Linked DNA regions of Homo sapiens. The protein of the gene in region 1 interacts with the protein of each later gene in a pairwise test. Each region holds a gene or a part of one and is shown in the gene's direction. Other genes may lie near its edges. The genes, in order: DLST, EGFL8, C11orf65, NXPE1, USP12, ARHGEF28 and RAB3C.

Evidence for each region.
Region 2: the proteins of DLST (region 1) and EGFL8 interact in binary tests that used the Homo sapiens proteins (3 or more experiments, as listed by UniProt).
Region 3: the proteins of DLST (region 1) and C11orf65 interact in binary tests that used the Homo sapiens proteins (3 or more experiments, as listed by UniProt).
Region 4: the proteins of DLST (region 1) and NXPE1 interact in binary tests that used the Homo sapiens proteins (3 or more experiments, as listed by UniProt).
Region 5: the proteins of DLST (region 1) and USP12 interact in binary tests that used the Homo sapiens proteins (3 or more experiments, as listed by UniProt).
Region 6: the proteins of DLST (region 1) and ARHGEF28 interact in binary tests that used the Homo sapiens proteins (3 or more experiments, as listed by UniProt).
Region 7: the proteins of DLST (region 1) and RAB3C interact in binary tests that used the Homo sapiens proteins (3 or more experiments, as listed by UniProt).

What each region holds. Positions count from the first base shown.
Region 1 is NC_000014.9:74,895,416-74,898,915, forward strand, and holds part of DLST (dihydrolipoyllysine-residue succinyltransferase component of 2-oxoglutarate dehydrogenase complex, mitochondrial isoform 1 precursor), read left to right. Parts: intron 1-2,953; coding exon 2,954-3,084; intron 3,085-3,500. UniProt on the Homo sapiens protein: Dihydrolipoamide succinyltransferase (E2) component of the 2-oxoglutarate dehydrogenase complex. The 2-oxoglutarate dehydrogenase complex catalyzes the overall conversion of 2-oxoglutarate to succinyl-CoA and CO(2).
Region 2 is NC_000006.12:32,163,328-32,167,394, forward strand, and holds the start of EGFL8 (epidermal growth factor-like protein 8 precursor), read left to right. Parts: upstream 1-1,267; 5' UTR 1,268-1,330; exon of another isoform or gene 1,331-1,354; intron 1,355-2,810; 5' UTR 2,811-2,838; coding exon 2,839-2,939; exon of another isoform or gene 2,940-3,170; coding exon 3,171-3,293; intron 3,294-3,373; coding exon 3,374-3,483; intron 3,484-3,582; coding exon 3,583-3,678; intron 3,679-3,759; coding exon 3,760-3,930; intron 3,931-4,022; coding exon 4,023-4,067.
Region 3 is NC_000011.10:108,387,530-108,391,029, reverse strand, and holds part of C11orf65 (protein MFI), read left to right. Parts: intron 1-3,500. UniProt on the Homo sapiens protein: Acts as an inhibitor of mitochondrial fission. Interacts with MFF and prevents DNM1L recruitment to mitochondria, promoting a more fused mitochondrial network.
Region 4 is NC_000011.10:114,521,882-114,525,381, reverse strand, and holds part of NXPE1 (NXPE family member 1 isoform 1 precursor), read left to right. Parts: intron 1-2,290; coding exon 2,291-2,503; intron 2,504-2,878; coding exon 2,879-3,414; 3' UTR 3,415-3,500.
Region 5 is NC_000013.11:27,070,812-27,074,311, reverse strand, and holds part of USP12 (ubiquitin carboxyl-terminal hydrolase 12), read left to right. Parts: intron 1-3,162; coding exon 3,163-3,241; intron 3,242-3,500. UniProt on the Homo sapiens protein: Deubiquitinating enzyme that plays various roles in the regulation of the immune response and inflammation.
Region 6 is NC_000005.10:73,632,696-73,636,195, forward strand, and holds part of ARHGEF28 (rho guanine nucleotide exchange factor 28), read left to right. Parts: intron 1-3,500. UniProt on the Homo sapiens protein: Functions as a RHOA-specific guanine nucleotide exchange factor regulating signaling pathways downstream of integrins and growth factor receptors. Functions in axonal branching, synapse formation and dendritic morphogenesis.
Region 7 is NC_000005.10:58,852,075-58,855,574, forward strand, and holds part of RAB3C (ras-related protein Rab-3C), read left to right. Parts: 3' UTR 1-3,500.

The sequences.
Region 1 (3,500 bases):
GTGTTTTGAGTGCGTACTGTATACAGAGTACTGTACTGTGGAATTCAGTGGGGATAGACGCTGGGCACCATGGCTCGTGCCTATAATCCCAGAGCTTTGGGAGGGTGAGGAAGGAGGATCGCTTGAGCTTAGGAGTTGGAAACCAGCCTGGGCAACATAGCAAGACTGTCTCTACATAAAATTTAAAAATTAGCCAAGTGAGGGCTGGGTGCGGTGGCTTGCGCTTGTAATCGCAACACTTTGGGAGGCTGAGGTGGGTGGATCACATGAGGCCAGGAGTTCGAGACCAGCCTGGCCAACGTGGTGAAACTCTGCCTCTACTAAAAATACAAAAATTACCCAGGCATGGTGGCGTATGCCTGTAATCCCAGCTACTCGGAAGGCTGAGGCACAAGAATTGCTTGAACCCAGGAGGAGGTTGCAGTGGCTGATATCGCGCCACTGCACTCCAGCCTGGGCAACAGAGCGAGATTGTGTCTCAAAAAAAAAATTATGTATGGTGGCATGGACCTATAGTCTCAGCTACTTGGGAGGCTCAAGTGATCTTCCTGCCTCAGCCTCCCAAATGGCTGGGACCACTACAGGCATGTGCCACCAGGCTTGGCCAATTTTTTTAGTTTTTGTAGAGACAAGGTCTCGCTGTGTTGCCTAGGCTGGTCTCCTGAACGTCTAGGGTCAAGCCATCCTCCTGCTTTGGTCTCCCACTGGGATTACAGGCATGAGCCACCATTCCTGGCCAAAAAAGAATTTTTAAACAGGTCTTCAAGAGTGACTAGCATTTTGTCAGCCTTGTGGAGAAAGGTCATTCCAGATGATGTTAACAGTGTAGACCATGAGATGGGAAAGTAGAAGACACATTTGAGAAATTGTCAAAAATCATTTCTGTTGTGAGGATTTTGTATAGCAAAGAATGGTAAAGAAGGTTGGATCCTTATTTCAGAATGTTTTGAATGCCAGGGTAGGAGTTTATATTTAATTCAGGAAGCAAGTCAAGTCTCAGGTCATCTCTTTCTTTCTTTTTGTCCTGAGGGTTTAGTCTGCGAATCTACTTTTCATTAGAGAAATTTGCTTTTCTTTGGAAAGGGTTTGAAAAATAGGGAGAAGGGAGTGTTTTCTTGATAGTGCGCTGTGGCATTGTTCAGAGTAGGGCTCTGTGACCTGTTTTACTAGATGTCATCCATTCTGTTGGGAAACTTTCCGAAGAGACTGGATGACATTCAAGCCAAAGATTTCTCTCTTGTTCATAGGATGTAGGGGAAGGACCTTGACTAATGAATCACAAAGGCTGCAGCTTATGTTTCAGTGCATTAGGGCCAAATTGTACACAAATTGAATTGGACTTTGAAATTCTACCCAGTTTCTTAAGACAAAACATGTAAATATTTGTGGCCCTGAAAGATGCAGTTGGCCCAACAGCTTTGATTGGAAAGGAAGCGTAATAGCTGGATCTCCTTTCAGCAGCTAATCAAGGTGTCACTTAACAATGGCCTGCGGTCTTGCTGCAGCCTAATTTGGTTTAGATCGAGTGCCCTTTGGGTCTTGTGCTGATCAGCTAACCCATAAGGGACCTTTCTGAGACCTTCTCCCTTCCTCTATTGTCCCAGCCTTTGCCTCCAAGGGCAGAGCTCTGAAATAGAAGCTACTTAATGACCAGACAATAACATTTGGGCAGGTTTGAGAGCAGAGATGTTTATCACATCTCTTTCCCTCTTCTGCAGCTCTTGTGTCTTGGGAACCAGTAATGTCTTTAGGGTGGTAATCCTAGCACTAAATAAGGTTAGAATCAGGAAAACAAGCATTTTAAACCCAATCAGTCCCCCTTGGAAAAACTTCCTTTTTCAAAAACAAAAGATCTGAAGGGGGCTGTTAAAATTGTACCACATCTTACCTTTCATGCTAATGTCGAATTAGGCCATTAGAGGGAGAAAGGGAGAACTGAGCATTTGGCCCTGAGATAAAGTTAAATTCAATTTTCATCGTAGAACTGCATTACTGCATTCCGATAAATACTGAGGTTTATGCAGCAAAGTGATGGGAAAGCCATTTCTCACTAACTCTGCAATGTGTCATTGAAAAAAAACCAGTCCCAAAAGAATAAAGGCTGCTCATGTTGTAAAGGCTTTTCAGAAGGCTTGCTGCTTAATCTGAAGGGAACCAGCCTAAACCACAAGTGGCCACTTTTCTAAATACCAAGGAAATCACAGCCATTAAACTAATCTTAGGGCAAGAACTATGTCTTAATTAGCTTTGTATCTTGGTACCTGGCCCTGACCCTCACATGTAGTAAGGTGTTAGTACCTGTTTGGAAGAATAAGTGGATGGAACTGCCAACCCTGGAAAGATGAAGAACGGATATGACTTTCCGTGGGCCTGAAAGAACACTGGGTTATACCCTTCCCTGCAGAGTCATGACTGCTTTTTCCCGCATGGAGCCTCATGTACCCATGAGCTGTTTATTTTAGTCTCCACTAATCAAGAGATAGGAGGAATATCACACGGGAGTTATACTCAGATTTGGTGGGGTTTTTTTTTTTTTTTTGTATTCTAACAAGAAATAAAAAGAATATTGCTTATTTTGTAGATTTTGTTTATACTTTAAAAAATTTTTTTTCAGGATGGATAGCTCAGTTATTCAGGGCAAGGATGTTGGTGTGCTGTGTGATCTCTTGTTCATATGATGTGTCACTGAAATCTGTGACTTCTAGACCATGAAGGAGCCCTGTAAAGAGATCAACCCACCTTAAAGACAGATTGGGCCTGATTCCTGTAGATTTCTTTGTAAAAGAACAGAGTTACTGTGTTAACCTCAGGTAGACTATTTCAAAACTTGAACTAAGGTAATGGTCCAGAGTGAGGGAAAAGCTCTCACCTAATTGTGTATATGGATTGAGAAACCTGTGTGAAAGTCAAAATGCAGGCTTTGTGGTCAGTTTGTTTTGTAATATTTTCACAGTAACATCCAGGAGATGAGGGCTCGGCACAAAGAGGCTTTTTTGAAGAAACATAACCTCAAACTAGGCTTCATGTCGGCATTTGTGAAGGCCTCAGCCTTTGCCTTGCAGGAACAGCCTGTTGTAAATGCAGGTGAGTTGCTTGTGGCTGGAATTGGAGAGGTCCTGGGAGGTAGGTGTATGAGCACAGACCTGCTCCCACATGCAGAGGATCAACAGACCAAGGCTTTTTATTTGCTACCTATAGAAATATCAGTATCTTCCCCAGGGATTTCTTGGTTCACCTTCCTGAAGCAGCATCATGATTACTTTCTACCCGCCAGCTGGGCAGAACAGTTTCTCTTCCCAGTGTACAGCTCGGCAGCTGCTCAGGCAGCAGGCAGTTCTGGGATAGCCCAGCTCTCCAGGCTGTCTCCTGTCAAGGTGGAAGCACGTGTTCTGGCTTCCTCCCCTCCCCCAGCTCCACAGGCCCTGTTACCTTGGGGCCTGACTTCCACAGTTGGTGTAGGCTCCTGGCTGACCTTTGATCTTAGGTCGATGGGCCTCACT
Region 2 (4,067 bases), on another chromosome or scaffold:
TCTCCTTCCAGGCCACTCAGGACATTTTTAGCTTCTCTCCTCCCCATGTTCCCTTTTTTCTCTAAAGTCCCCTGACATCAGCCCTCCCAACTCCTAAGAGGGACTACCCATGAGAGTGGGGTTCTGAGGCTCCCCTATGGGGACAGTTCCGTTCTTGAAGTGTCAGTGTTGGGGAATATCTGTGGCCTATGAGGCCCATCTCAGGTTTGGGGATCCCCCAGTCCCTATGATCAGTGTTGGAGTACCCCCCTGGGAGAGCCTAGTTTCTTTGAGGCCCCAGGCCCTCTTTTAACTACCTTTGAATAGGTGTTATCCCTGTATTTATGGAAATAAAGTTCCATTTCCTCAGTGTGACTTGGCTCATTTCCAGGTGGAGGGGACCTGGCTCCCCAAGGAGGGTGGGGGTGGAGCCTGAGGCCTGGGTGCCCAGATGCCTGGTCTAGGGTGGGGACCCCCTTGGTGTTTCCGCTCTCTCTCAATGCCCATTCTTTGTGGGTTCCTGGTTCTCTGCGGGTTCTTTCCTGCTGAAGACAATTCTCTTCCTCTCCCAGTCCCCAAGACTGGGGGGTTAAGCTCAGGGCTCCAGTGGTTTGGGCCTCAGCCTCATGGGTGGAATGCGCCTGCCACCCCCAGGCTAGACGAGGGGGCAGAGGGTCAGGGTGGGCATTCGTTGTGCCGCTTTTGAGCTTTGTGGGCCAGAGCTGGGTGTAGGGCTGGACAATGAGCCTCCTCTTCCTTGAAAGAAGGAATTTTGGCTGAGACAATAGGGCCCTGTCTGTTCTGGCATGGGGGGTGGTGGCTGACTCAATTCTGTTCCCCCTAAGCCCTAACAAATGTCATGAAGAGAGGGGGGCAGTTTTCCCCTTGGTGCCCTGGGCTGCCCCCCTGCCCCTTTGTGACGACTTGCCCTTCTAGCTTTCCTCAGCTGATCTTGCTTTTTCTCCCATAACCTGAACTGCTTTGTTCCCTGCAGCTGGTTCTCTCCCTGCCCCCTAACTCTCCCCTAGTCTGTTTTGGGTTCAAGGGGGTACTGGTGGTGTTACAGAGCTCATAGCTTCTGATCTGGGGAGTCCAGAAATAGGGGCCTCAGAGGGTTGGAAAGATACTTCTAGGGAGCCCTTTGCTGGGGTGGGGATGAGGGTAGTGGGACTTGACCCTACTGAGCTGACCCTGCTGGAGCTAAGGAGGAGGCTTGTGGGAGGGGGCAGGAATGGGAGGACTCTCTGGCCCAGCCCCTCCTCTCCTTCTTAGCCTGCCAGGCCCACCCACCAGTCTGAGCTGCTTCTGCTGAGGCTGGTCTGCTTGAAGCCTCCCAGGAGAAAGAAGCCAGGTGGGAATGGAGAGAGAGAGGAAGGCAAGTGGGGAGAGAATTTCAAATGGGGAAAGAGTGGGGTTTACTCAGAGCCTTAGGGTGGGCATGAGTTGCGGGGTGTTTTGTTGGAGCAAGGGATGTGCATTTAGGGCGTTATGTGACGGTGTGGGTATATGAGGGGAGTAGCAGTGTGTGAAAGGTGTGGAGTTTCCAGGTGCTTGGTTTGTGTGTACGGTGTGAAGGTATATAGCTAGGGGTTTTTTTTGTTTGTTTGTTTTGTTTGTTTTTTTGAGACGGAGTCTTGCTCTGTCGCCCAGGCTAGAGTGCAGTGGCATGATCTTGGTTCACTGCAACCTCTGCCTCCAGGGTTCAAGGGATTCTCCTGCCTCAGCTTCCCGAGTAGCTGGGATTACAGGCGTCCACCACTGCGCCTGGCTAATTTTTTGTATTTTTTAGTAGAGATGGGGTTTCACCATCTTGGCCAGGCTGGTCTCGAACTCCTGACCTCATGATCCACCCACCTCAGCCTCCCAAAGTGCTGGGATTACAGGTGTGAGCCACCGCGCCCAACCAGCTAGGGTTTTGAAGGTATGAAGTTATAAGAGGGCATGTTAAAGACAGGAGGGTTGGCCAGGCATGGTGGCTCACACCTGTAATCCCAGCACTTTGGGAGGCCAAGGCAGGCGGATCACCTGAAGTCGGGAGTTCGAGACCAGCCTGACCAACATGGAGAAACCCCGTCTCTACTAAAAATACAAAACAAAATTAGCCGGGCGTGGTGGCAGGCGCCTGTAGTCCCAGCTACTCGGGAGGCTGAGGCAGGAGAATGGCATGAACCCGGGAGGCGGAGCTTGCAGCAAGCCGAGATCGCACCACTGCACTCCAGCCAGGGTGACAGCGAGACTCCGTCTCAAAAAACAACAACAAAAAAAAAACCAAAAAAAAAAAACCCTAGCTATATACCCTCACACCCTACAAAACAAAACAAAACAAAATTAGCCAGGCGTGGTGGCGCATGCCTGTAATCCCAGCTATTTGGGAGGCTGAGGCAGGAGAATCACTTGAACCTGGGGGGCGGAGGTCGTGCGGTGAGGCAAGAACATGCCATTGCATTCCAGCCTGGGTAGTAAGAGCGAAACTCCTTCTCAAAAACAAAAACAAAAAAAAACCCAAAAAAAGACAGGAGGGTCATAAGGGGAGGGTTGACTGTGTGTCCCTCCAGGTTGTGCAGAGGGGATTAGAAGTAAGTAGGTTAGAGGGGAGGTGGAGGGAGTGTGCTGGGGTGTGAGCTTTTATGATGCTGAAAGGATCATGATATGCTAAGGACAGGATAGTGTTGGGTTGTACACACAGGTGTAGGCAATCCTGGTGGCTAGTATGTAAAAGTGAATGTCCTGACTCCCTTAGAGGGTACCTGCAGAGTGCCCTTGGAGGGACTAGTGCTGGAGAAATTAATAGGAGAGGGGACGGGCATCCATTAACCTTTTCTTGCCTGCAGCCTGTAGGGTCCAGCGTCAAAGCGAATCATGGGGTCCAGGGCTGAGCTGTGCACTCTCTTAGGCGGATTCTCCTTCCTCCTGCTACTGATACCAGGCGAGGGGGCCAAGGGTGGATCCCTCAGAGAGAGGTGACAACAGAGGGGGTAGGGCCCGGGGTGAGCTCTTCTCAGGAGCCTTCTGCTGGGGGTGGGGCTTCACAGGAGGCAAAACATAACTGTAAGTTTAGAATGGGGGTGAGAGGCTGTCATCTGGAGGGAGAGCGGGGGGCCTCAGTAGCCTCTTGAGGGAAGTGGGACTCCTGGCTCCCCAGGGCCTGGCCTACTCAATCTCTCCCACCTCATCCTCTGGCATGGACGCAGTCAGGGAGTCTGCTCCAAGCAGACACTGGTGGTCCCGCTCCACTACAACGAGTCCTACAGCCAACCAGTGTACAAGCCCTACCTGACCTTGTGCGCTGGGAGGCGCATCTGCAGCACTTACAGGTGAGGGATGGGGAGATGGGACCCCAAGAACCCCAACTAGGACCCGTACTCAGGGTCCTGAGCCGGGCGCTGTGTTCCAGGACCATGTACCGCGTTATGTGGCGGGAGGTGAGGCGGGAGGTTCAGCAGACCCATGCAGTGTGCTGCCAGGGCTGGAAGAAGCGGCACCCGGGGGCGCTCACCTGTGAAGGTGAGGCTGGGTCTTCCGGGCCTTGCGGGAGGCGCGCCCCACGGAGCTGGGGAGCTGGGTCGTCGGTTTGAGTCTGAACCCCACTTCCTCTGTCCTCAGCCATCTGCGCCAAGCCTTGCCTGAACGGAGGCGTCTGCGTTAGGCCTGACCAGTGCGAGTGCGCCCCCGGCTGGGGAGGGAAGCACTGTCATGTGGGTGAGTCAGCTTGTCCTCCCCACCTACCCAGGTGCTTGCCCCCGCCCCCTCTCTCAGCCCCTTCCTTTTTTCGGTAACTAGACGTGGATGAATGTAGGACCAGCATCACCCTCTGCTCGCACCATTGTTTTAATACGGCAGGCAGCTTCACCTGCGGCTGCCCCCATGACCTAGTGCTAGGCGTGGACGGGCGCACCTGCATGGAGGGGTCCCCAGAGCCCCCAACCAGTGCCAGCATACTCAGCGTGGCCGGTGAGTGGGCAGGAGTACGGGCCACCCGAGGGACTCGGGACGGGCGTCCGGGCTCGGGTAGTGGTCACACTCTTGGTCTCCTTTGTCCCTAGTTCGGGAGGCGGAAAAAGATGAGCGCGCTCTGAAGCAGGAGATTC
Region 3 (3,500 bases), on another chromosome or scaffold:
AATGAAGAAAAAGGGGGAAGAATGATCAAGACAAAGGAAAATCAAAACAAGAATAAAAGAAAAAAGAAGATACTGATGAGAAGGATAGATCAGAAAATAATAAGGAAAAGATAAAAAATAAAGGACTAAGTGTCCATAGTAGATGCTTTAAAATATTTTTAAATAAGAAGAAATTGCTATGATTCAATAACCCCAATATTTTGTGCAGACCTCAGTCTTGAGATTCCCTATAGACAGCATGTCTGTAGTTCCTGGGACACTGAACAAATGCAGATGGTAATAATGATGCAAGAAATGACAGCCAAACAAAGGAGCTGCAATGCCTTGCTTTTACTTTTCTTCCTAAGAGTAAAAATTGCTGAGTGGAAAAGAGAGGGAAGAAAGGGAAAGAGAGGTAGGAGAGGTCCATTTTGAATGAGTTTCCCAGGACTGGATAGAGAATTTTCTCAGGTGAGCTTTTGAAATCCTGCTCTGCCTTTCCCTTGTACCATTGGCCGATTCAAGCTAAGGGCCGGCAAACAAGTACAAAAAATTGATACCAGATATTCTATATTCTGTCATTACTGGAATATAAAAAGAATAAAACCATTGAGTTCAAAGGGAAGAAAAAATAGGCATCTCGGTCCACATAAGACTTTCCCCGCCATCATCCGCTAAGTGATAGTAGGTGAAGTCTTAATGGCTTCCCTTTAAAAAACAAAAAACAGGCTGGGTGTGGTGGCTTACGCCTGTAATCCCAGCACTTTGGGAGGCTGAGGCAGGTGGATCATGAGGTCGGGAGATCGAGACTATCCTGGCTAACACGGTGAAACCCCGTCTCCACTAAAAATACAAAAATTAACCCACCAAAAATTGGCAGGCACCTGTAGTCCCAGCTACTAGGGAGGCTGAGACAGGAGAATGGCGTGAACCCAGGAGGTGGAGGTTGCAGTGAGCTGACATCGCGCCACTGCACTCCAGCCTGGGCAACAGAGCGAGACTCCGTCTCAAAAATAAATATAAATAAATAAAAAATAAAATAAATAAAAAAAAAACCAGCCAGGCGAGGTGGCTCATGCCTGTAATCCCAGCGCTTTGGGAGGCTGAGGAGGGCGGATCTTGAGGTCAGGAGATCGAGACCATCTTGCTTAACACAGTGAAACCCCATCTCTACTAAAAATATAAAAAATTAGCCGGGCGTGGTGGTGGGTGCCTGTAGTCCTAGCTACTTGGGAGGCCGAGGCAGGAGAATGGCATGAACCCACGATTCATGCCATTGGGAGGCAGAGCTTGCAGTGAGCTGAGATCGCGCCACTGCACTCAAGCCTGGGTGACAGAGCGAGACTCTGTCTCAAAACAAAACAGAGCAAAACAAAAAAACCCAGGATAAACCAGTAAGACTTGAAGCAATTTCTTCATAGCATATAGGAGTGGGATGGATATACCTAGCTTTCAGATGATAAGAGCAACTGAAAATTTCCATTAAAAAAATGCAAATACCTTGCTTCCAAGTTATGTATAATTTCTATCAGTTTATCTTCTGAGTTGAGGATACTCATAATTTTGTACCAACATGGACTCTTAGCAAGGTTTTACATTGAGCCTTGAACAACAAAAATTTCAGATGAAATTTCAAGTGTGATTATCTGGGTATATTTCAGTAGCACTACTTGGCCACAAGCACTGATTATCTCAGTAAGACCAAACTTTGCAAAGGCCTTCCCCTAGCTAACTGCAGACATTAGGCATAAGCCCCTTCTTTCCAGCACATTTATGGTCTCCACAGTCTACTTCCCCGTTTGACCTTTGTAGACCTCTAGATATTTGTAACTGGCTTGGTGACACCTTGTTTGATGAAAATTTAAAAGTCTGACATTTGTCCCCTCTAGAGAATTGGTCACCCCTAATTCCTTGGAAAGTATCCTTCAACGTCTATGGACATTTTTCTACAGTTGGACAGTTAGAATGGCATAAATGCCTTGAACACTGATATTTAGTGATAACAACCAGTTTCTCCCCAAAGGCTTTTGTTCTAGTCCGTTATGACAGACCGATGCTCTCCTGAGATGAAACCATGTCCATCTTCAGATGCGTACTGCAACTATTAACCGAACATTGTTATTATCATTTGGAAGAATGGATAGAGCCAGTTTCACTAGTGGACTCAAACACACTAATGAGTACTGTTGCAAATTCCTGTATCCAGAGCTATGTTGCTGCAGCTGTTTAGAACCCAGAACAATCCCCACATCACCATCACGGAGTTATGCACAATGCCACAGGACAGCTACCGTGGCTTTTGCTGGCATTCATCCTAATGGATATTCAGATGTTCCTCTTCCAGGATCATCACGTTTTTCAAACAGCAAGTGAATTTTGACATACCTATTAAGCAATCACCAGCTAGAAAATATTAAATAATTTCCTGATACTCTGTTGGGGAGAGCTCTGTGCCTATGTCTGTTATGGATAGTTTCTATATCTGAAGCTGCTCCTTTGATTTCTAAGATATGTAGTTTTGTGACCTCTCTGGCTAGGGACTTTTTCTGAGCTCTTAAAGTGTTAAATTTGTAATTTAACAAATGGATTCATTGTAGACTGCACACACACTTGATAACTATTATCTAAAAATTTCTACAAATTTCTTCGTGAGAAAGATGAGCTCTGTGATATAAACAGCATGGTAGTGCTTTCATCAGACTTGCTTCTATGTCTGTAAAACTTAGATTTCTTATCAATTACTGCTGGTATGTTCTTTATGAGAAGTTCTTTTTAAAATAATGGAATAAAAGTCATGTGCTAATCTTGGATAAAGCAGGGACAGTGATGGGGCCTAGCTATGGTAAGTGTTTGTGCCCCAGATTGTCAGGGCTCAGCACACTATCGATCAAGGTCTTTTATCTTGGTTTCTTGAAGGTGGAATGAAAGTCTTTTCTGTGTATAAATCCAAGCAAGCAGGATGACTCTTTATAGTGCTCCTGAGCAACCACTGAAAGCACAAAGTCTGCTAAAATTTAAGGTCAAACCAAACTGAATTGCCTACTGAGAGATTGTGGAAGGAGTTACACCACCTGCTCTTGTCCTGCATCCTTTCATTTAAGTCACCCAGCAGTATCCTATTGAAGGCCATTGAAGAAAGTTCGCAGAGCACCAAGGGGTAGCAGTAGTAAGAAGGAGCCAAATTCAGACACAACGTCTGATTGTAATTAAATACTGTTGGATAGGCCAAGTGCAGTGGCTCACGCCTATAATCCCAGCACTTTGGGAGGCCAAGGTAGGTGGATCACTTGAGCCCAAGAGTTCAAGACCAGCCTGGGCAAAATACCGAGACCCCATCTCTACAAAAAATTAAAAAGTTAGCCAGGTGTGGTGACATGCATCTGTGGTCCCATCTATTCAGGAGGCTGAGGCAGGAGGATCACTTGAGCCCATTAGTTTGAGGCTGCAGTGACCCATGATGGCACCAGTGCACTGCAGCCTGGGAGACAGAGCGAGACCTTGTCTCCATAAAAATAAGTATT
Region 4 (3,500 bases), on another chromosome or scaffold:
TTTATATCTTCTGCTTCAACATATTCACAGGTTTTAAGAATTAGGATGTGGATATCTTTGGGGGACTATTAGTCTCCCTATCTAATAAAAAATATAATGGAATCTATTTCTCAGTGGGCAGGTCTATGCAAACCTACTCCCAAAGTTTGAGGAAGCTGAGAGGCCAAAAAAGAGTCTGACACATCCAGTTTCTCGAAACATTTAGTAGGGACTTACAAGCAGAAGCCATGTTTATGTCTCCATTGTTGAGACAAGATGGTGGATCTCCACACCATTACCCCCAGATCTAGGGCTTACAGAGCATAAGGGAAGGGTGGTTCAGATGGGATGTACAGGACAATTGAAGTACAATACCACCAAGGCTGTTTGACCTACGGGCAAGATTTACCATAATTATCTGCTGTTATACAAGAAACACTAGATAAACCGGGGTTAATCAGGAGCCAACATAGCAGATTAGCATCTAAAATGGAGTTGCTTTTGCCTGATATACAGAATCCTGATATTATTACCCACATACTGTTCAAAATGCTCAAGCTTATTCTAAAACTATTAAGTAAAATAAACATGTAAGAGTAATCATAAGCAAATTTGTTATAAGTTTGAGACGTGGCAAAATGAATACCTGACACATAAAGATTACACAACATAGGGTTTACAACAATACACTTAAAGGCTATGTTCTCAGCAAAGTGTGCCAGTACATTATTAGGATAAAGAATACTTAATAACTATGAATCTCAAGTTTCCAGGGTCATGGTATTCAATCATCTAGGGTGCAATGCTATCAAGCCTCATAGAAACCCATCAATATCACACTGTAATTCCAACATAATTATAGGATTATACAAACTCCCTTTAGTAAGCCAAATCACCAGGACTTAAGAGCTATTCCAAGTGCACTTTCCAATTCTGCCACCAGCACCATTTTACCACTTTGTCCATAGGTTACAAATACAATACAACCATGTAATGATGCACTATTCTGTGGACATAGGCAGCCAGAGACTGCAAGGCCTCTGAGGAACTAAGCAAGGAGGGTAAAGCAGAAACTGCTGATGGTTCCCCAATACTCACTGCCTTCTCCTTCTTTAGTAATAGAAACCAGTTGTGGCTAGACCCATGGCTATCCTTTCTTATATCTAGTTGTGGCCATGACTAAGTTTTTTCCAGAAGTGCAAGTGGGAAACTTCTAGGTCATGCTTTAAAAGCAAAACAACTGGCCCTCCCTATCCATTTCTTCCCTTACTACTAGCCGAACTTTAGATATAATGTGAGAACAGCAAGAGCCAAGTTAGACCATGAGATTAAAGCCACACAGTAAGAATGTCATAGCCACAACATAGAAGGAACAAGAGTCCCTGACACCATGCAATGGCATATTAGCCCTGGCCTTCTCACTCCAGGCCTGTTATGTGAGACAGAAATAATCTTTTATTTTTAAGTCATTATTATCTTGGTCTTTCTTACAGCATTCAAACTGGTTTCCTATCTCATACAGAACGTAGTATCAGTATAGAAGTCCTGATATAACAAATCCTAAAATACAAGGCATTGGCTCAGTGATGGGATGGCAGCATAGAGAGTGGTAAGGAAACATGACAGGAGAAATTGGATGCCCTTTGTTATGCCATAACAAGACATTTGCTTCACTGCTACCTACCTGTAATAGAAGGCAGACCATGTGCAAACAGAGCCTGAAACTCTAGTGAAACTTCCTGGATTATCTCAGAATATTGGTTTGTATTGGATGTTGCATGTTGCTTTTAGCAAAGTCTGGTTTTACAAAAAATTGTCAAGCTAGGTGACTATTATACTATTTGAGGTTTTTATATTTAATGTACATATTTTAAGCCATTTTTTGAACACGGAAAAATTAAGATTATTCATTCCTTCATTAATGAAACAAAGGTAAAGAATTTTATACAGCGGCACCAACTGGCAGACCACTAACATCATTTGGGTAAGAGACAAAGACAGAAGTCACCACAGAGTCAGGAAAAAAGGATAGAACGTCAAAGAAAGGATAGAACGTCAAGATTTAGCTCATGACCAAATTTAGGAGGAAAGGAATTAGACAGAAGGCAAGATGACTCAAAATCTCTTAAAGGAATAAGCAGAAGTGCCTGAAGCAAAGCTAATGATCAAAGAATAGGACTAGAAAGGGACAGAAAAAGGAAATAGGCATTACAGGAAGGGGGAAAGAGAGCAAGAAAATGAAAGACCAGGAAAGAAGGCTAGATGTCTAAGTTTTGCCAATAAAATCATTTACGAGTGTCTTTGTTACCAGAGAGAGAAAAAATAGAAGAGACATGCCAAGTTGGAATGAAGCCTCCTGTCCCTGGTGGTTATACTTTACAAGGAAAATGGATAACAACATTTTGCAACCAGGTTCAGTTAGACACAATTAAGATAAATGGCTGTTTGAAAGGCAAACTCATTTACCTCCTGGGAGACTCTACACTACGTCAGTGGATCTACTACTTCCCCAAAGTTGTAAAAAGTAGGTAGTTACTTTATATTCTCTTAGAAATTCAGGCTGGTTTTAAAGTACTTTTAATGAGGTCTCTATTCTCTCGTTTGAGCTATTTTGTTTTTTACTTCATTTGGCTCTCTGGATTTGAACCTTTACATTTAAAATGTATTTTATTCCTTCTTTCATAAGAAATGTTGGTCTTCTTTTAAAATTCCAGTGAAAACTTTACATTTTTGATTGACATTTTACATGTATGAACTGGGGGTACTGTACCCTAGAGAGTAGAAAGGCTCCAGTGAGCAATTATCTAGGTAGGGTGGGTATTTTAAATGATAGGACATTCTTTTTCATGAATATTAACCATTATCTTCTATTTAAAACATCTATTTGTTTTTTTATCAGCACTGAAGTTTTTTGATCTTCATGAAACTGGAATCTTTAAGAAACATTTGCTTCTGGATGCAGAAAGACACACTCAGATTCAATGGAAAAAACATAGCTATCCCTTCGTCACTTTCCAGCTCTACTCTCTGATAGATCATGATTATATCCCTCGGGAAATTGACCGGCTATCAGGTGACAAAAACACAGCCATCGTCATCACCTTTGGCCAGCACTTTAGACCATTTCCCATTGACATTTTTATTCGCAGGGCCATCGGTGTTCAAAAGGCTATTGAAAGACTGTTCCTAAGAAGCCCAGCCACTAAAGTGATTATTAAGACAGAAAACATCAGGGAGATGCACATAGAGACAGAGAGGTTTGGAGACTTCCATGGTTATATTCACTATCTTATCATGAAGGATATTTTCAAAGACCTCAACGTGGGCATCATTGATGCCTGGGACATGACCATTGCATATGGCACTGACACTATCCACCCACCTGATCATGTGATTGGAAATCAGATTAACATGTTCTTAAACTACATTTGCTAAGGGATAAATACTATACAAAATCACTAGGAACCAATCTCTGCACATAATCCCACATGTATTGTAAAGTAAGTTTTACTCATTTTAGG
Region 5 (3,500 bases), on another chromosome or scaffold:
TCTCCTGCCTCTGCCTCCCGAGTAGCTGAGACTACAGGCACCCACCACCACGCCCGGCTAATTTTTTGTATTTTTAGTAGAGACGGGGTTTCACCATGTTAGCCAGGATGGTCTTAATCTCCTGACCTCGTGATCTGCCCGCCTCGGCCTCCCAAAGTGCTGGGATTACACGCGTGAGCCACCGCGCCCGGCCTCTGATGAGAATTTTTAAGGACAATCTGGAGGGAGCAAATGCTCTTTAATAATCGTCTTCTTCCTCCATTGCCTGGGTCAGCCTTGGGTCCCGTCTTTTATCCTCAGCAAGAATCTTTCTTCTACTTCTAAATTAAGAGTGATCACATCTTAAAGGAGTGAAGCAGTGTCAAGATTACTTAAAGAACCTTGGTGTAGTGATTCAGACCGGGTTTTCAGAGTGAGAGAAACTTGGATCTCAGTACCATTTCTGCCAATTGTGGGCAGTGTAACGTTATGCATAGCTTCCTGAAAAGCCTTCAGTTTTCTCTTCTAGAAAATGTAAATAATACTAATTACCACATTGCTTTGTTAGGATTCAAAGGGAGATGTAAATCGCTTAGCTACTGCTACTGTTCTATTAACAAAAATGTAATATTACCTTCTCACATCTTAGCTTTATAATATTTACTTTCTCACACCGATTAGCCTCTTCAAATTTAGTGACAGTCCTACTCTACTTAAATCATGCTAGATTTTTAGAATTGCTCTACTCACAATATACTGAGCTGAGATGCCTGACTCATTGGGGAGGGGTCCCCTCCCCACTCTCCCCTTTTAAAATTAACCCAACTCTTTCCCCAGCCTTAAATCCTTAAGTCTCTTGACCCTTTCCCTTTTTAACCTTTTCTTTGGCCTCACTTGCTTCTCCCAACTTGAACTCCACAGTCAGTTATTTAAAGCATGTTCTCACAAGCACTGTAAAATCCTCTTGCCAGCTGTCTGAATCCCTACTGTCAGAATTGTTGCAGAAAATTGCAGAGAGATGTTTATTGACTTTCCTCACAGCCCTGGTGGTCTGCCTTCACTGGGAACTCTCTCCTGATGGAGTTCTGCACAGCAGGTCTTTGGTATCCCGCCCCCACCCCAGGGTCTTACTCTTTCTCCTGTCTCACTCTCATTGCCTCATGCCTTCCTGCCCCTCCGCTCTGGAAGTCTTCCTTGACGCTCTTCTGCCCAGCCTCAGTCTCCATGTGGTGCTGCTCCATTGTCTTCACATAAATACTAGACGTGCATTGCTAGCCCTGTCTTAGTGCTTTATGTACTCTCTTAGGATGTATGTCTACTTCCCTTATGAGAACAGGTGCTTTTTAAAACAGAAAATAATTTGCTCACTAATAAAAGACTAATCATATTTTAGAATCTTTTTCCATTGTGTATTTTATTTATCAGACTTATTTGTAGATTTGCTTCATATGAAAGTGTGGAGGGTGTGCGCAGCCTCATTATCAGCATGTCAGTTCCAGTTCAGCTTGCTCCTTCTCTGTCCCCGGTGCCCAGCCTAGAAGAGACTTCTAGCAAATGTTTGTTGACTTAAGTATTACCCTTCAAGCCCATGTCAAAACTGGGCACCATTTCGTGATTTCCCATCCCTCTCTCCCTTCTACCTCCTGTCTTGCTGGATGAGGTCTCTCCTGTGGCTCTACTTTTATATCATATTCTTCCTTGGATTATGTTTTTGGAGTAGTTATCTATTGTACTGAAGGGGTATTTGGGCAAGCAGTTGTTGGTATCTCTTTAATCTCCACAGCAATCAATAGTTATTTGCATACCTTACGCATTTGTATCTACTCAACTGAGTGTGTTTAATGTCCAGAAATCAGATGCCTAAGAAACAACTTCCTTAGGTGGAAGTTCAGCCCTTCATCTCTCATTTCATTTTTAGTTTATGAAATTAACTTTTGTCTACTGTTCCTCAAACTAGTTCTTTGCCAAAGGAAAAAGCCGCCTAACTTTTTTCAATTTACCAGTCCTTACCCCACCCACCTCCTTTCCTTCCACCCTGTGTTCTGCAACCTTTCTTTGATTTTTCTTTATTTCACCTTTTATAATTTTGTTTTCATTTCTGACCCTCTCCCCATAACACACAAGACCCTTTAGATGAGCCTAAATAAATACAGAAATAGACTTAAAGCATTAAATGCTTTTTTAAGAAAAAGTTTTGATGTGTCATCCTCCATAGTTAAAAAAAAAAAAGTATTTTTGTTGGTGTCATTCTGTCAAAGATATTTATCTCACCTACAGGATCAAATGATCTGAGAAACATAAGATATTATAGTAGGTGGCTTATTCTAATATCTGGTCACTACTTTTAAAATAGTGTTCACCATAAAGAATAATTTGTGTTGAAAAGGATTTTAACTTCTGTATTAATTATAGAATTACAATTTAATAAATATAATTATATGAGCCTTTATAATGAACCATACTTAAACTGGAAGAGGTTAAAACCTTTGTCATATCCTTTTATAAAGAAAAGGAATTATGCTTCTTTTATTTTTATGTATATCTACATTTATATATTCCAGATTTGTTTGAAATGAGATGCAGGGGCAATCATAGTCATAGTTATAATGGTATTAAGAATTAGGTACTTAATAATGACTTACCATTGAGCAAAGGTCATTTGCTTTTAAAGACATTTTATGAAGTTCAGGCTTGATTTTGGAACCAAGGATTTGATATCCTTGCCTGTTTCAAGCATCATATTGGATCTTTCCTCAAGAAAAAAACCATTACCAAGGGAGTGAGACTTAGAAATAATTCTATATGCATTGTTTTATAGTCCAACTCAGCATGTTCTGCTGTGATCCCCTCCCTTATAAAATGATAGAAAAATATGTCTTTTATTATAGAAGCAAAATTGAAAATTATTACAAAGACAGTAAAAAATTTCAGTAATATAGCTGTATGTGAAAAGAATACTGATATATCTCTTAGAGTACTAATTATTTGATTTTAAAATTGATGACCAGTTCAACTCAGTGTAGCTTTATCTCTTTTGGCAAGAATAGGTAAGGGGTATAAAAAAGAAGCAGTTCTTTTTTACTGCTATTTATCTGTTTCTGTTTCTTTATAAAACAAAATTTAGAGCATGAAAGAGTAATATTAATAAATATATTGAATTAACTTCTTCTTCGTTTGTTTTAGTGGTCCCAATCGAGGCCATTATATTGCAATAGTTAAGAGTCATGATTTTTGGTTGTTGTTTGATGACGACATTGTAGAAGTAAGTAGTTTCTTAATTTCTTATTTTTGAAAGTTGTATGCATATGTTGCTTTTCACTTTTTTCTCATAGTTTTTCATTTATATATGACTGGTGATGATATGAGACAAATGTCTGGGTCTATAGATTGTAGTCTAATTCCTACTTCTTACTCTGCAACGTCCAAGCCCAGCAGTTGAGTGGTCACCTAACCTTTACACACCTAGAATAAAACAAGGGAGGCCAGGTGCGGTGGCTCACGCCTGTAATCCCAGCACTTGG
Region 6 (3,500 bases), on another chromosome or scaffold:
AGTGACATGATTTTGAATCCTTTCACAAACCTGAATATTGGACATATTCCAATTCACTATTTTCTTTTTAAAGTATAGTTCTTCCAGATGCTATCTGACGGTGTAGAGCAGCAGTCCCCAACCTTTTTGACACCAGGGATTCGTGTTGTAGAAGACAGTCTTTCAATGGACTTTGGTGAGGGGGATGGTTTCAGGATGATTCAAGTGCATTATGTTTATTGTACATTTTATATAATGAAATAATAATACAACTCACCATAATGTAGAATCAGTGGGAGCCCTGAGTTTGTTTTCCTGCAACTAGATGGTCCTACCTGGGGCTGATGGGAGACGGTGACAGATCATCAGGCATTAGAGTCTCATAAGAAGTCCCCAACCTAGATCCCTTGCATGCACAGCTCACAGTAGTGTTCGCATTCCTATGAGAATCTAATGTTGCCACTGCTCGGACGGGAGGTGGAGCTCAGGCAGTAAAGTGAACGATGGGGAGCAGCTGTAAATACAGATGAAGCTTCACTCTCTTGCGTACTGCTCAACTCCTGCTGTGTGACCTGGTTCCTAACAGGCCATGGACCTGTACTGGTCTTTGGCCCCAGGGGTTGGGGACCTCTGGTGTAGAGCACAGATCTGTCCCCCTTTCTTCTAGGGAAGAAGTGACACCTCATGGTTAAGATTAGCAGCTGCAGGTCAGAGAGACTTGGGGAGACTCATGGCCTGCTGCTTCTAGCTTGTCTTGGCCAAGTCACCTAAACTTTTAGCCTCAGTTTTTGTCTATTTCTCTCATAAGATTGTAAAAAGGACTCAATAAGATAGTCTATATAAAGTGTTTAGCACAGAACCTAAGAGAATAACTCCTCAATAAACAATACCTTTAATTTTTTTTTTTTTTTTTTTTTTTTGAGACAGAGTCTCGTTCCATCACCCAGGCTGGAGTGCAGTGGTGTGATCTCAGCTCACTGCAACCTCCGCCTCCTGGGTTCAAGCAATTCTCCCGTCTCAGCCTCCTAAATAGCTGGGATTAGGGGTGCATGCCACCATGCCCAGCTAATTTTTATATTTTTAGTAGAGACGGAGTTTCACCATGTTGGCCAGGCTGGTCTCGAACTCCTGATCTCAGGTGATCTACCCCCGTTGGCCTCCCAACGTGCTGGGGTTACAGGCATGAGCCACCATGCCTGGCCTAAAAGTATTTCTTAACTGTACTGTTGAGTTTCCACGTTCATAGTCATCTCAAAATTAGTTTCTTTTTATGTATGTTGCTATGGAGCCATATATCCTCATTCATGGAATTGTGCAATTGGGTTTTTAGTCTTATGAATAATCTTAATATTTATCTTTCTTGAATTTATTTTCCTGTATTTGACCATTTTTTCCTAGTCTTTTAGAGTGTTTATACATTTTTCATATTCACTACCCCTTTTAGTCTCAAGGTATCCATAGGTTTGATAAACATTTATTCAATGCCTGAGGAAACAATAAAAGTGTTATTTAGGCTGAAATCTAGGGCAGAGCCATTTGATGTGTCTATGCAAACTTCAGTTCAGGTTGATGTTTATCAATTTCAAGTAGGCTTGTTCAACTAATTACTACTTATTTGTATCAGCATCTGGTTCTTAATCCCCCATCTCCTCATAAAGATATATACTGTGTCTATTATATCTCTTTGTCTAACAGTCTGGTAAATTATCACCACATAATAAAATGGGGTTATTCTCAAGTGACTTATTCTTTGGGAGCACACACTGGCTCCAAAATGCCACTGCTTTTTCTTCGAGGTCCTCATACACCACACTTTTAATAATCTGCTCTAGAATCTTAATCTAGGATCAACATGAAATGCCTTCTGTCTATAATTTGTAGAATCTGCCGTTTTGAAAGTTGGAATGACATGTGCTTGTCTCCTGTATCGAATCCCTCTGTCATTGTCCACAGTTCCTGATGGATTATGGTTAGGAAATCTCATCAGATTCTTTACTATCCTGGCATGTCCAGCAGCCTGGAACTGATTCAGACCAGCTTGATGCTCTCTTACAATGGACTTTCTCACTTAGAGATGTTCTTTCTCTCCTTTTTAATTAAAAAATCATTCCTTTCTAAAAGGAGACAAAATACAAATAGACATGGAGGAAATCTCTTTTCTTGATCAGTCTTCTATGCTCTATCACCAGCCCCAAGCCAACCTATTCCTTTCTTGACATTCTGGTTTTAAAAATAGTTGAAATAAAAATTTTAGTATCCTTAGATTTTTAGGAAACCTCAGGTTATTTGGGCCTTTAGACTGTCTGATACAATTCTAAAGAGCATGACTCCCTCATGTTTGTTCTTGCAAAGGGCCAGGGAAGAGAGTAAAAAGAAAGCCATTCATGGGCCGGGTGCAGTGGCTCACGCTTGTAATCCCAGCACTTTGGGAGCCCGAGGCAGGTGGATCACCTGAGGTGGAGAGTGCGAGACCAGTCTGACCAACATGGATAAACCCCGTCTCTACTAAAAATACAAAATTATCCAGGCATGGTGGCACATGCCTATAGTCCCAGCTACTCGGGAGGCTAAGGCAGGAGAATCGCTTGAACCCAGGGGGCGGAGGTAGCAAGTGGGCCGAGATCGCGTCATTGCACTCCAGCCTGGGCAACAATAGTGAAACTCCATCTCAAAAAAAAGAAAGAAAGCCATTTTTTTTTTATCATTTATGTATGAGTGGAAAATAGCACACACCTAGGAATCAGGAGACCTGGCTTTAGTCTTGAGCTCATTGAAAGTAATCTCTTCATATCTCCAAGAATCAATGTCTTTTCCAAATAGAAGGACTTTGGTTGTTTCTATAAACTGTGATGATTTCTTTAGGTAGTGATTTCATTGGCTATTTATAAAGCTTGGTGGAGATGGAATTTGGATATGGTAGTGTAGTAGGGAAATTAAAGTCCAGGTTTATCACTCTGTGGAATAACCTGTCTCCTTTTTTATTATCAGAAACCCACATTTAGGTATAAGAATCAGCTCATCTAATGTAAGTGTTGTCTTTCACGGAGTTGTCAACTTTGCAACTTGTCAAAAACTTCAGGAATGGATTTCTGGAAGTTGCTTTTATAGCAGTTATCACAGCCCCTAGAGATGTAGCAGGATTCAGCTGGCCATTCCTATTCTTGGAGAAAAAGAACAATGCACAAAACGCATTGCCAATGCTTTAATAGGGTTTTAACTGACGGATTTTTAAGGGGGAGTGAAATAGAAGTATTTCTCTTAAGTTCTATGTTTCCTGACATATGTAACTGTTATATAAAATACATGTATATTGTTTCTTCTCCCATTTGATCACCAGAAATATTGATATCTTGCTCACTGACAATAAAACAGTATCAAGGACTCCTTGATGTTTAGTTAGAAAAGTTCCAACTTGGACAGAAATTTGTTTATTATGAGACAAAGGTCTTATGTCCTTTGATTTTTAGTCTTCTTGTAAAAATGTTTTAGTGTTAATAAAAAGGTGCTTAAGATTTCAACTA
Region 7 (3,500 bases), on another chromosome or scaffold:
TTTTTCCACTGATCCTTCCCAATTCTGTGAATATTCAACATCATTGAACAGATTGAGACATATCTACTGAATGCCAGTTATGCAACAAGCATTTTAACCAAGAAGGGTATGAGTAGCTATGGAATTCCAAGGTCCAAGCCCCCTTATTTTTCAATGACTTGCCTTCCCCAACCCCCATAATGCACACCACCACCACCATCACTTTCTGGAACCATCACCAACTCTTGGACTAGAGCTTATGTTGAAGCTTGTTAGGGCTCCTCTTTCCGTAGGATGTAGACTTGCCTCCCCAAACACGGCCATCTTCTCAAACCTCAGCTAAGTTCTTTTACCTGTTTAGATGCTATTTAAATCAGATTTCAAAGGGTCCCCAGTTGAGAAAAAGGAAAATTTTAATCTTTAATCATCTTTTTAAGTCCAGATGTTCATAAATTCTAAAGCATATTCCTATTACGTGAATGCTTAAGTTACACAGGAAACATTCTATAACTGTAGTATTTCAATTTCAGAAATATTTAGGATCCATAGCAATTTAAAAGAGGGAGGAAACCACTGGAGCATTCTAATTTTGTATCACAAACTTCCTAAAGGACCTATATGAATAAAGAGAAAACAACAAATCCTACCAGCTGTACAGAGAGCAACAGGGAAATTTGGCCTCTGTATCACTGTCCAGCATTATTTAAAGCTAGGATTTAGGAAGGAAGCAGGAATTATTTGGCAGATTTGGAAGGATAGTTTCGTTAAGTGAACTTTCTACTTTTTTGGTGGTTATGTCAAAGAATTTTTTTCCTCTTCTCAAAAATAGAGAGGCTTCCCATGAAAGTATTGGATGCAAATGAAACAGGCATACATCTAAAGATATCTTTGGAGAATAAATCCTTACAAGTCACAGAACTAGGTCACACACATTAGTAAGTCAAAAGTTGGAAATTAGGGGAGAGAGCATTTGGAATGCTTTAAGCATTTCCATGTTATTTCTCACCTTCCTAGTTGAAGATCCACTAATCAGTAGTACATTTCTACTTTGGTGCCCTACAAAGCAAACCTTAGCATAGTAAAGACAAGAAAACATTAATGTTTTATTAGTTTTTAATGGGGCAACCAACTTCAAAATCACAGGAATTACAGTGACGGGAGAGAAAGAAGCAGGAGGCATAAAAACAGATTTGTTTGTAGCAGTAGTCTGTTTGTACAATGTTATAATATTTCTGTAACTTGGGCCAGAATGTGGCCATGTTAAATGATATAGCTATTAAGCTCACTTTTACAATCTAAAAGGAACTAATAAAGCCAGGAAACCCTTCTCATCCTCCTTCACAGCCCTCATCCCACACATAGATGTAAAAAGCTTAGAAAGAATATTCTGATGGCTTTTTCAGAAGGAAGGACCTTGATGTGTGTATTGTGGTAAAATGAAAAGCAAAATGAGACAGTATTTAAAAGTGAAAGAGCAGAGTTTTGCTCTGCTGAAAACCCCTTCCCTGAAGAACTGATTGCTGTTGAAGTTAATTGGCCCTTAGATGGGAAGCCCTAAGCCAAGCTCCCACTTACACAGTGTCAAACATCCCGAAGTGGAAACATTTTATGCCAGTCAGGGGAGAGACAGGCAACAATAGCCCAAATGTCATTGCCAAGAAACATCTGATACTTTCTAATTTCTAAACCCCAATGGAAGTGAGGCCTTTTTCATTGATTCTCAGTTCTGAAACTCCCACCCTGTTAGGATTTCCATTCCAAATAATTCAATGAGAGGTTTCCAGAGAAACAGTCACAGAGCTCAAGAGAAAGAACACTTAAATGCTCCTGCTGTAATTGCATCAAAAAATCCGGGTTTTAACATCAAATTTGGCAAATGGTGGGACCAACCCAAGGTTAACTAAGTGGGCTTTCATTGGCATTGAGCTATGTTACTTATAAATTATAACACTATAGTTCCAAGGTTTTTCAGCCTTTTGGCCAACACACACACACACACACACACACACACACACACACACTATACCATCATCTATCAATAGTCTAAATACATAAATAAATGCAGGTCATTTTTATCAATGGCCTAACTAAATTTATATTTAAAAGAACAAGACTTTTAAAAAGTACATACTCCTGTTGGTTTGTAAGTTATACACATTTATCTCTTGTCTTTGATTTAATTAAATTAGTGTTTTAAGTATGAATTTATTTTCCTTTGCTACTCATTACCTGACCACTTTCACTCCTCTAGATACCCTTAGGAATAAACCTGAACTGTTCCAAATCGATTCTTCCAAGAGCTTTGGTGTTGGTACCTTCCTTTCTTTTCCTAATGCAACTGAAAAATTAGACTGAAAATTATTTGACTTAAATAGCCATCCTCAGAGTGAATCAGCATTTCAGTTTTTGGAGATGGGGATGGAAGTAGAAGGTGCACAAAGCGTCCTAAGATGGCAGTTTGAATGTTAGCATCGCATCTACATGCTCATAAGAGGAATTGCTTCAGGACAATGAATCAGTTCATTGTTGCTGCCCCCAGTGAACAGCTCCAACTGCCTTGATGAACTTCTAATGACTGTGAAAGCTAGGAGGTTCTTCTAGTTCCTCCTTAGGGTCACTTGAAGTTCAGTATTTTTTTGCTGCCTGGTAACTAAGTGCTAAGATTTTTACTTGGAAAGAAAACTATGACAATGCCTTCAGTTGTAGCAGAAAGTTGTGGCATTGTGATAATAAACAAAATCTACAAAGTTACAACCCAAATTATACAAGACATCAAAACACTCAGTAAACAAATATATATATTTCACCTACTTAAATCTTATTCATATTAATTATAGGCCTTTTGTTTAGTACACTGGTTATTTTTTAAGGAACCAATTTAAACTTTCAATTTTAAATACATCTATGCTGACGATAGACTTTCGGGTATATACAACCTTCTTCTTCTCTTTTAAAAGTTAAATACATTCCACTATTAACTGAACTTCCATGAAGCAACATTAATTTTAGAGCATGGTAGTCCATAATCAGTGGTTCATTGTGATGTGCTTTATCCAACATGTATCTTAGTGCATGGTTGAGGATGTACTATGTGATATTTTAGTTAACAGTGTGGCATTTGTGGGACTATATTAAAAGCATATCCAAACTACCAAGCTATACCAAGCTGAGGTAGGTAACACCTGCATGTGAAAAACTGTGATATGAATCTTATTTATAAAAAAGTCATAACTAAAACCCTTCTAGACCAAAAAGTTACTGTGTGTTTGTTAATAATCTTCATAGTACTACTGGAATGCTCAATCAGTTATTTTTGGTGTGGCATACTTCAGAGCTGGCCTGTCCGTCTGAAGAACCCTTTCTCTCACAATTACAGTTTGCATGACTAGAACCCGGAACTCTGTTCCTTTGCGTGTATAGTCACTTAGTGTGCTGTCCGGGTGCCACATGAGCAACTACACCCATGTGGCCTTTCTGTCACTCCCTGGAAAATGCAACCTCTACAGCTCTGCTCAGCTCTG